2 separate regions of the Homo sapiens genome follow, and region 2 is linked to region 1. The links come from fine-mapping of genetic effects on gene expression. A gene starts in region 1. The other region holds a variant in brackets. All regions are shown on one strand. Distances are from middle to middle. Region 1 holds the start of MYEOV (myeloma overexpressed). Region 2 has its middle 30 kb from the start of MYEOV.

Region 1 (5,367 bases):
GAGCAGTCAGACTGATATGGATGATGGGAGGAGCTGCCCTTTGGCTCAGAGGAGGAGTGTCAGAGAAGGGGTCACAAAGACAGCTCTGTAGGCTGAGCCAAAAGCAGTATAGGGTAATGTTAGGAGCAGGTCTTGGTGCAACTGCCTGGGTGCCCCTAGGTTCCACTGCTAACTTGCTATGTGACTGAGCCACTGTACACTTTAGTTTCCTCCTCTGTAAAATGGGGATAACAGTAGTCCTAGCCATAAAGTTGTCATGAGGATTAAATGAAATAGTGTGGGAAAACTACTGACATGTGGTGCATGTTCAGTACAAGTTATCCTCACCATTATCATCATCACCACCATCATCATCATCATCACCAGCATCATCATCATTACCGTCATCACCATTACCATCATCACCATCATCATCATTACCATCATCACCATCATCACCATCACCATCACCATCATTATCACCACCATCATCACCATCACCATCATCATCACCACCATCATCACCATCATCACCAACATTATCATCAGACCACCATCATCACCATCATTACCACCACCATCATCATCATTATCATCTTCACCATCATGATCACCATCATCATAACCACCATCATCACCATCATCACCACCACCATCATCACCATTATCATCCTCACCATGTTCACCATCATCATCATCACTATCACCACCACCACCATCATCACCATTATCATCCTCACCATCATCACCACCATCATCACCACTTTCATCACCATCACCGTCATCACCATCATTATCACCACCATCATCACCATCACCGTCATCACCATCATCACCACCATCATCATCACCATTATCATCCTTACCATCATCACCATCACCATCACCACCATCATCACCATTATCATCACCATCATCAACGCCATCATTATCACCATCATCACTATCATCACCATCACCATCACCATCACCAACTCATCATGATTTAACAGGTGGGCTGGCAATCTGAATGTTGAAGACAGAGGGAGAAAATCAACCTGGGGCAGTCAGATTTCTACAGTCCTCCCCAGCAGGACCCAGGTGGGCTACTGGGAGTCCCAGAAGCAGATATCAGCCCAAAAGATGAGCTTTGATAATTAGAGTGAGGCTATGGTGAGACTGAGTGACACTGCGGGGTGCCAAAATAATCTAGGGTTGTTGGAATGCTGACAGCAGACAAAAGTAAGATAAGGTATCTCCTGACACCACCTCCTTCCATCTGCTCTCAGACGGGGCTCTTTGGAGAGGATCTGCCAGGAAGAACTGAGGTCTTATGCCACCTCCACCTCTACGTAACCTCAAACAGGCGTCATCTTGTCTCCTGGCCTCAGTTTCCTCATCTGTAAAACGGGGACACATCAGGATCTGCCCTCAGCAAGTTGCTGAGTGCCTGCCCTGAGCAGCCGGTAGGTGGCGCTGATGGGCTGGTGGTTGGGTTGGGGGAGGCTCGCATAGGGTCTCTGGAGGTCCCAGTAGGGCACTGGGGAGACCTCCCCTGATTCCCTGGAGGCAGAGCAGAGCTCTTGTCTTTGCAGGAGCTGCAGATTCTGCCTTGGGTATCTTAGAAGCTTTGTACAGGCATCTCCAGCTCAGTGGGAACCAAATGCCATCCTATCTCCCCACCTCACTGGTGTCACCATCTTCCTGGGAGCTGTCTGGATAACCCTCTCCCTGGCCCTCACCTTTAATTTGTCCCTGAGTCCCATCAGGGTCACCCTCCATCCCACTGCCATCTTCCTGGGAGCTGTCTGGATAACCCTCTCCCTGGCCCTCACCTTTAATTTGTCCCTGAGTCCTATCAATCAGGGTCACCCTCCATCCCACCACCATCTCCCACCTGAGTGAGAATGGGAACCTCCTCTCCCACTCCCTCCAATTCCCCTCCACTACAGCTGGGGGAGGCTTCTAAAATGCCAAATATAGCCCAGTTTCTGCAACTTGCAGGGTCCCCAGCCCTCGGGAGAAAGTCCAAACCCCTGACAAAGCCTGTGAAGCCCCCTGAGGCCCTGTGGGTCTGGGGCTAGCTCTGGGCTGCAGCCCTGTCTCTGGTCATAGTCCAGCATCCACCACGGTCCAGGTGCACTGAGCTGCCGGCCCTCTCTCCCCTCCGCTGGCTCCTTCCTCCTGACTGCCCGTCTTTCCCTGGCCTCTCTATGCTTCCCGCTGGCATTGACGACAGTGTCCTGGAGAGCTGGGCAGGGAGGGCTGCCTTGGGTTCCTACTGTGTGCTCCACCTAGTGCTGGTCTTGGCCCTTAGCAAGTGCTCAGTACACCCGTGTGGAATTGGGCGGTGAGGGTAAAGGGAGGAGGAGGGAAGGGCCAAGAGCTCCCTGTGCTCAATGAAGAGAGGGACTTGAGCAAGTACTCATTTTTAGTACTTCCCAAGATGTGTACAAGAGGCCTGGGGCCAGCAGAACTCCTTGCCCCTGCCCATCCCCCTCCAGTCTATGGGGTCCACCCCCAGCTGCCCAGCTGTGAGGCCTCCATGGCTCAGCTCCTCATCTATTAAGTGAGGACAGCAGTCGTCCCCCTCACAGCGAGGCCACGTGGGTTACATAACTTTTTCTTAGGGTGCCTGGCCTGCAAGAAACCCCTAAGAATGTTCTATATTCCTAGGCCCACTGTTATTCTTAATATTACCCAGGAAAGGGTGGTGAAGCGAGTAAATAAATGAATAGGTGAATGAATAAATGAATGAATGAATGGCACCCTAGCCCCACTGTCTTCTGGGTGGCTTCAGGATCCTTGAGGAGGTTGGCCGTGTAGGTTCCCCTCAGGTAGGACCTAGGTGAGCTGGGGAGTCTTAACTCACCCAGGGCAGGCCTTAAGGTTGGGCACACCCATGTGTGGGCTCTGCCCTGGCCTTAACCGAGAGAGGGAAATGTTGACGGGGAAGAAAGCCCTGCCCACCAGGCAGCCCCACCCACCTGGGCTAGCCCCACTCACAAGCAGCCCCACCCACCTGGGTTAGTCCCACCCACCAGGCAGCTCCGCCTACCTTGGCTATCCCCCTCTGAGTTCTTGCCTTGATTCTCCTGTTACTGTCCCGCGAACCCACATCCCTACAAAGCAGGAAAGTATGCTTGGGAGAGGCCAAGTGAGTGGGGAATCAGCCCAAAGCCAGGCGTCCAGGGTCTCCCTCACCTGAAGCTGACTTTTTCCCCACCTTGGACAGAGGGCGGGAGATGCCATCCCCACTGAACCCAGTGCTTTCACCAGCCATATTAGCTCCCACTCACCCCCCGTCGTGGAAGCCTCGGCCGTCACACCTGCAGGGCCGGGGCGTGCATGGCCTCAGGGATGGCCTGTTCAGCTGCTGGGTGACTCGGGTCCAGGTGCCTCACCACCTGCTGAGCTCTGTGTGATTTCTGGACACTTCTGCTCGTTGCCTTTGGGCTCAGTGAAGAGTCTGGAGTTTATCTGGAGTGAGGTGGCCGGTTCTTGGTGGGATCTGAGCAGGTAAGAAGCAGGGTCTTTCTTATGTTTTAAGGAAAGCCCTGTGGCTGCTGGGTGGGGGACCAGCTGGAGGGGCAGGAGGGCAGCAGGTGACTCATTACAAGGCTGGGGCCATCATCCTGTGAGAGCTGGGCATGACCAGTGCAGGTCAGTGGGGTTGAGGGTACAGACCAGTGGGACCCACAGACGGCTCGGGAGTGACCAAGCCTCTGCTGAGCTGCCCAGGTCCCCTCTGGTGGACACCTCCTACCCGGAGCCCCCCAAGGTGGTGCCAAAGCTAGACCACCATACAGCCAGAGGCCTCCAGGCCCTACCCACGACAGCCCAGCTGGCTTCTGCCCAGCCACCGTCACACACAGAGGGCAGCCGTCCCCATGGTCCCTAGAGGCGGTTGAGGACCACTGTGCCTGGAGTCATCTGTGGCTATAAACCAGGAGGAGAAGGCTGCCCACCCCCTGCCCCAGAGATGGGGAGGCTGGGGCCACCCGGTGGATTTGGGCAGGTCCCAGCTTCCAGGATCATGAGGTGAAAACGTGAAGGGACCCTAGAGGCCATGGGGACCCAGGCACAGAGCGGCGGCCTCTCATCCTCCCCATGGTCAAGGAGGTCAGTGCCTTCCCGGGGTGGATTACGGATGGTAGTATCTTCCTTCTCCTCAGAGTCCATTCAGGAGCAGGAAAGTTCATCTCAGACCCTAAATCCAGCCACGTCATGCCACGCTTAACACCTCTAACAACTTCCCCTGGCACTTAGGACAGCGTCTGGCTCCTTCCCTCGGCTCATGGCCCTCAGAATCTGCGTCACATACACCCCAGCTCTCCCGATAGGTCTCTGCACTCGCTGTTGCCTCTGCCTGGAACAGTCTCCCTCCTGGTGTCATTGTCTCCGTGGTGTGTCCTTCCTGACCTTCCACCTCCACCAGGTGCCGACACTTCCCTGACCCCAGTAACCTCTTCTCTTGGGTGGGTGAATGCCACCTGCTGATGTCTGATTTATTCATCGGTTTTCTTGTCTGTAGTCTGTCCCCCTTGGGGACAGGGACTCGTTGCTCATGTTCACCCGGCAGGCTGGACACTTCGTGGAGGGCTCCAAAGCCGGCAGATCCCGGGGCCGCCTCTGTCTCTCCCAGGCCCTGCGTGTTGCGGTGAGAGGAGCATTTGTGTCTCTGTGGTTTGCTGCTGGAGCTGGTGACCGGGAGAGAAACAAGGGAGACAAGGGTGCCCAGACAGGTGCGGGGCTCAGCCAGGAGGCAGAAGACGTGGACGTGTCCCGGGCCAGGAGGGTCACAGATGCACCACAAGGCACTCTGTGTGGCACTGGGAACAGGAATTCTGGGAGTCAGTCTGCAAGGGTGGTGGGCGTTGCTCACCTGGGAGAAGCCTTTAGAGTGGGCGTTGAGCAGGCCATTAGCTCGTGCCCTGAGGAGGTGCATGGGCGGCATGGGCTCTCCATGGAAATTATGTGGGCGCGAATGGATGTGGCTCTGCGCTCACCTGGGCGAGGACTTCTGGCCGGTGCCGGGGCACTCTGCATGACCCTGGCAGAATCGAGCTGCCCTGACTATGAAAGGGGAAGAAGAGCATGCCTGACCCTCCACCGGCACCCCACCCCTCACTGCTCCACCTGGGGCCTGCCTCTGCGGGTGGCTGGGTCCTGGCTGACTGTTGTGACTGTTGAGGCCCTGGGGGGGTGGCGCATGGGAGTTAGGAGGACTGGCCAGGTGGGGCCCACTATGCACCCACCCCCAGTGTCAGGTGCTTCTCCTCTCCTCCTCCACCACCTCCTCCTCCTCCTCCTCATCATCATCCTCACTTGTTGAGGACGTCCTGTGTGCCAAGTGGTTTATATGCCCAGCCTCATTTAATCCTCAGAATGACTCCATGAGGTAGCTAC
Region 2 (5,376 bases), 30 kb before region 1:
CTGGGGCAACTTGAAGAGGTATGAGGGGTATTTGAGGATGCGGCTGGCATTCCTGGACCCCTCCACTTTTGCTGATTATGTCTACAGGCCAGTCTCCTGCCCCATCTCCTGCACCCCCTACAAAGGAGGAGATTGTTCTCTGGTTTCTGGCTGACCTTGAGGGATTATTCACAAACACAGGGATCACATTCACATCTCGCCACCAGCATGGTCTCTGGGACCCAGCTGCAATGTTAAATGAGAGGGCAGCCTGGAACCTGGGAGGATGGGATCTTCGGGTCTGCTTCTGCCTGTGCCTGGAGGGCTGGGCCTCCAGGATGGGTCCTGACTCTGTATCATGGTCCACTCCTCACACCAAATGTGTTCTAGATACTGGGTGGCCCCAATCCCACCAGAAGACGGGGCAGTGGCAATTTTTCCAATGATCTCAGGGTGGAGATTTCTACCTCTGATCTTCGGGGTGGAAATCCATGAGATCACTTTTCTTTTTTTTTCCAGGCCTTCAATGCTGGGCCTCTATCCTGCCCACGTGGTTGGTGGGGCAGATTCGTGGCTCTCCTCAACACCTTCATGGATTAACAAACAGTCTCATGCTCAGTAAATGGAAAGTCCAGTCCAGTCTAAGTCAGAGCTTCAGTCTTTTTTTTTTTTTTTTTTTTTTTTTGAGACGTAGTCACGCACTGTCGCCCAGGCTGGAGTGCAGTGGCACGATCTCGGCTCACTGCAACCTCTGCCCCTCCAGGTTTAAGCAATTCTCTGCCTCAGCCTCTGGAGTAGCTGGGATTACAGGCACGTGCCACCATGCCCAGCTAATTTTTTGTATTTTTAGTAGAGATGGGGTTTCACCATCTTGGCCAGTCTGGTCTTGAACTCCTGACCTCGTGATCCACCTGCCTTAACCTCCCAAAGTGCTGGGATTACAGGCATGAGCCACAGCGCCCGGCCAGAGCTTCAGTCTCTTATCCCATGTACACCCTCTTCCCCACTCCACGGCTCCTGCTAGGGTGGGCAGCTGTCATGGGGAGGGCCTGGGCTGTGGTTTCTGCTGCATTCTTCCTTTTTCCTTCTTCCCCCATGAGGCTTGGAGTTTCTCCTCTGGCGTGTGCCTTTGATGTCTGGCTTTGGGCCTTTCCCCATTGGGAACCCCTAGCATGAGTCTCTGGCCCTGGCCAGGTGCCTTCAGCTAAGGGCCTGTGACTGCTCCCATCCTGGGCTCCTCTCTAGGGAGGGCCTCAGGTGGCTCCTGGTGGTCTCTCACCCTCATAGGAAATGTCCTTTCAAGATGACCCACTCATGGCTTCTTTTCATGGCTGTCCACCATGACTCACTTTCCCCTCCATGCCTGAAGATGGCCACCCCGAGGGCAGCTCTGGCCACCCCTCATTTAGGCAGTGCAGGCAGGGGTCAGCACCAGGCTCTGCATCCTCCAAAACTCTAAAATCTCCTGCAGACCCTCAGAGATGCTTCTGAGGACCCCCTCACCTGGCCTGAGATGCGAGTGAGAAGAACACCTCTCTCTTCACTGTCAACACAAGTAAATAACAAGTATTGGTGAGGATGTGGAGAAACCAGAACCCTTGTACACTGTTGGTGGGAAGGCAAAATGGTACAGCCACATTGGAAAACACTTTGGCAGTTTAGCAGATGGATGATCCATCCATCCATCCATCCATCCATCCATCCCTCTGTCTATCCATTGATCCATCCATCAATCCATCCCTCCATCCATCCATCCATCCACCCATTCATCCGTCTGTCCATCCATCCATCCATCCATCCATCCACCCATCCATCCTTCTGTCTGTCCATCCATCCATCCATCTGTCCATCCATTCATCTGTCCACTCATCTGTCCATCCATCCATCCATCCACCCACCCATCCTTCCACCCATCCATCCTTCCATCTATCTATCTGTCCATTCGTCTGTCCACCTGTCTGTCCATCCGTGCATCCATCCATCCATCCATCCGTCCGTCCATCCATCTGTCCATCCATTCATCTGTCCACCCATCTGTCCATCCACCCACCGTGTCTGTCCATCCATCCATCTGTCCATCCATCCATCCATCCATCCATCCATCCATCCATCCGTCCATCTATCCATCCATCCATCCATCCATCCATCCATCCATCCATCCATCCATCCAACCATCCACCCACCCATCCATCCATCCATCCATCCATCCATCCATCCTTCCATCCATCTGTCTGTCCATTCATCTGTCCATCTATCCATCCATCCATCCATCCATCCATCCATCCATCCATCCATCCATCCATCCACTCACCCATCCATCCACACTCACTGAGCACCTGCTACATCCTGCTCAGAGTCTGGTGGGAAGACAGATGTGTAAACAGACAATGACAACTCAACATCCAGGGCCATGATGGAGAATCATTTCCCACTCTAGGTTCTGAAAGCAGTAGTCCAGTACCCTTTTCCTGCTCTGGGCTGTGTCTCCGTGTAGCTGATATGACTCTGATGATGTCATCCTCTAGACCTCAGTTGCTCTTCTGGAGTTACAAGGAAGCAGAAGAAATTCATTAGGTGCCCCGAACTTGAGGGCAGGGCCCAGACCAGGGCACTCCTGGCCTGGGTAAGCCCTGGCTTCCTCCCTGACCAGCTGTGTGACCTCAAGTCTGTCACTGCCCCCACCCCCGACACCCGTC[C/T]CCACAGCCCCCACCATGAAGAGACTGGGCTGGCTGCTTTCCAAGATCACTCTGAATTCTTGTCTGGGAGCTAAGATATTTCTGTCATGTGCGGAGCAGGCTGTCCTGCTTCCCAAGCCCAGGGCATTTTGCACCTCTGTGTTTCCTCCTGCCCTACTGCACCCTCCCACCTGCACTGGGCCATAGCATGTACTCAGCCCTCCCCTAAATGTTGCACTCATGCTCTGAATCCCAGCTCAGAAGTCATCTCCTGGGTGGGTTCCCTCAGTGCCAGCAGAACCCCTGCCCTGTGTCCCAGTCATGGAATATGCCCCTGATGTAGCCCTTATTCCATCTCATGCTGGCCCTTTTGGCAATGGAGTCTGTGGGGCACCAGGACAAGCCTGAGGGGTTTGCCAGAACGTGAGGCTCCGTCCTTGCAGGTGTCCCAGGACTTTTGGCTGCTCTGTGACCCCCTGGGTCCTCAGCCCTCTTTGAGGCCGTGTGTGGCCATGTGAGGCCCCAGACCCTGTGACAGAGGCCTCCCCACACCTCCTGAGTAGAAAGAACGGAACAATAACAGGGCAGATGCGGCGCCTTTGCCCTTCAACCCTGGGGCTGTGTTTTGCAAAGGACCAGAAGGATCAGAAGGGTCTGAAGGGTCTGAAGAGAACCGAGCCCCAAATGCCCCACACCTGGCATCAAGGAGGTGACTAGGAGGCTCCTAAGGGTGCTGAATCACTAGCTTCCCTGGTTGGGCCTGGCTGAGGGAGGCAGGGGTTGTTGGCAGTAAGGAGGGAGGGAACAAGGAAGCATCTACAGGGAATGCCACCCAAGACCCAAGATTTGGCCTGCCCTGGGCCCTGGGGAGGGAGCGGCTACACCAGAGCATGGCCTTCAACCCTCCCCTGGCCGCTGCTCCCCTCCAGCGTGTATCTGCTTTGGGTGGGAGGAGCAAGGTCACTGTCTTCCTTGCTGGGGTGGCTGGGAGGGAATGTGCCCTATCTGTAGACACCAGGCAGCCAGAGAGACCCTGCTGTGTGGGAATGGTCTGGATGCCAGCATAACCTGCAGTCTCACGAGGAAGAGCTCACAGACAGAGTGTAGGTGCACACAGCCAGAAGCCAGGGGCAGATGTGCAGGATGTTTACGTGCCCTGTCTCTTGCTCTGCTGCCCATGTCCCTCACTGGCCCCATGGCTCTGAGGCCCAGAGAATGCAGTGCAGGGACTCTCAGTACTGCTGAGTGCCTACTGTATGCCTACTATATGTAACCCGGCACTGGGTGCCTTGGGGCCTCCAAAGCAAGGCCCCGTGACCCTGTTCTAGAGCTCACAGCCACGACTGAGGGCTGGGATGAGGGGCAGGCTGGTATATAATGACAGTGACCAGCCGAGGGTCTCCAGGCCCTGCAGGAGCCTCAGCTGAGGAGCTCAGAACACAGAGTAAGGGTCCCGCAGGTAACAAAGTTGGGGCTCCCCATTCTCACCCCCAATATGTGTTTATCAAGCACACCACAGTGGGGCCAGCACTGCAGTGAACAATCACACACACGTGTGACGTCACCCTCTAGAAAGGATGGAGAAGAGAGGGAGGGATCAGCCCTGGGCAGCCAGGGAAGGACCCTCTGAAGAAGTGACAGGCAAGCTGTGGGTGGTGGGGACCTGGGAGGGCAGGGAAGAGGGACAAGAGGCTAGACCACAGCTGGGGCTCAGTGACGTGGGGTTTCATGGGTCGTGCAAATGATGAGGGATCTTATCCTGGATTTTGCTAAGTGCCCAGTGCCAGGCCAGCCTCTCGGGCAAGTGACCTGTGTAGCTGCACCAGCCCCTGGGTCAGTGGGGCTCTCTCAGGGTTCAAAGCTCTGCTACCACCATCTATCTTTCTTTCTTTCTTTTCTTTTCTTTTTTTTTTTTTTTTGAGACAGAGTCTCACTCTGTTGCCCAGGCTGGAGTGCAGTGGTGCGATTTCGACTCACTGCAACCTCCACCTCCCGAGTTCAAGTGATTCTCCTGCCTCAGCCTCCCAGGTAGCTGGGATTACAGGTGTGCACCACCATGCCCGGCTAATTTGTTTTGTATTTTTAGTAGAGACAGGGTTTTGCCATGTTGACCAGGCTGGTCTTGAACTCCTGACCCCAGGTGATCCACTCGCCTTGACCTCCCAAAGTGCTGGGATTATAGGCATGAGCCACTGTGCCCGGCCCTGCCGTCACCATCTAGATGCTCTTTAATAACTTTGAACAAGGCGTCCTGCATTTTCACTTTGCACTGAGCCCCTCAGGTCCTGCCCACACAGCTGCTGCTTGCTCAGGAGCCCAAGTCTGGCCATCCCCTCGTCTTCCCGACCTCATGTGAGGGAGGAGGGAGGGGGCTGCCTTCTCCACCAGGCGGGCATGGAAGTTTGCCAGCCTCAGATTTTCAATTAATTGCCCACGCCCCTGGAAGATAATTGCCAGGACTGTTTGCCTCCATGTGGGCCTCAAGGTCAGTTGCCTGGGCAGTCTTGTTAGGGAGGAGGAGATAAAGGGGGCTCTGGCCTCTGTTTCTCGTGGAGGTGCTGCCTGGGGTGCCCATCGCAGGTGAACAGGGTGTGTGTGCCTGGGCAGGGTTGGGGCACGAACTTTTCAAGCCAGGACAATGTCAGAGCCTGGGCCACATTCTATTGAGCATGGCTTCCCTGGGACCCTGTAGCTGGTCAATGTGGACATTGGCAATGAAATG

What was found. PIP is the estimated chance that this variant, and not a neighbour inherited with it, causes the effect.
Region 2: its variant is the best candidate, but not a certain one, in a credible set for the expression of MYEOV in lymphoblastoid cells (GEUVADIS, PIP 0.75).

The regions. Positions count from the first base shown.
Region 1 is chr11:69,291,100-69,296,466 of GRCh38, forward strand. It overlaps MYEOV (myeloma overexpressed), which reads left to right and starts at 3,056. Exons shown (of 3, transcript NM_001293291.2): 1 at 3,056-3,477; 2 at 4,134-4,396; 3 at 4,493-5,367. The coding sequence starts at 4,256. The coding sequence ends at 5,293. RefSeq lists an enhancer at 1,627-2,178.
Region 2 is chr11:69,261,131-69,266,506 of GRCh38, forward strand. No RefSeq gene overlaps it. Among named protein-coding and RNA genes, the nearest start is that of MYEOV, 30 kb to the right of the region's middle. The variant C/T (reference allele first, on the strand shown) is at 2,676.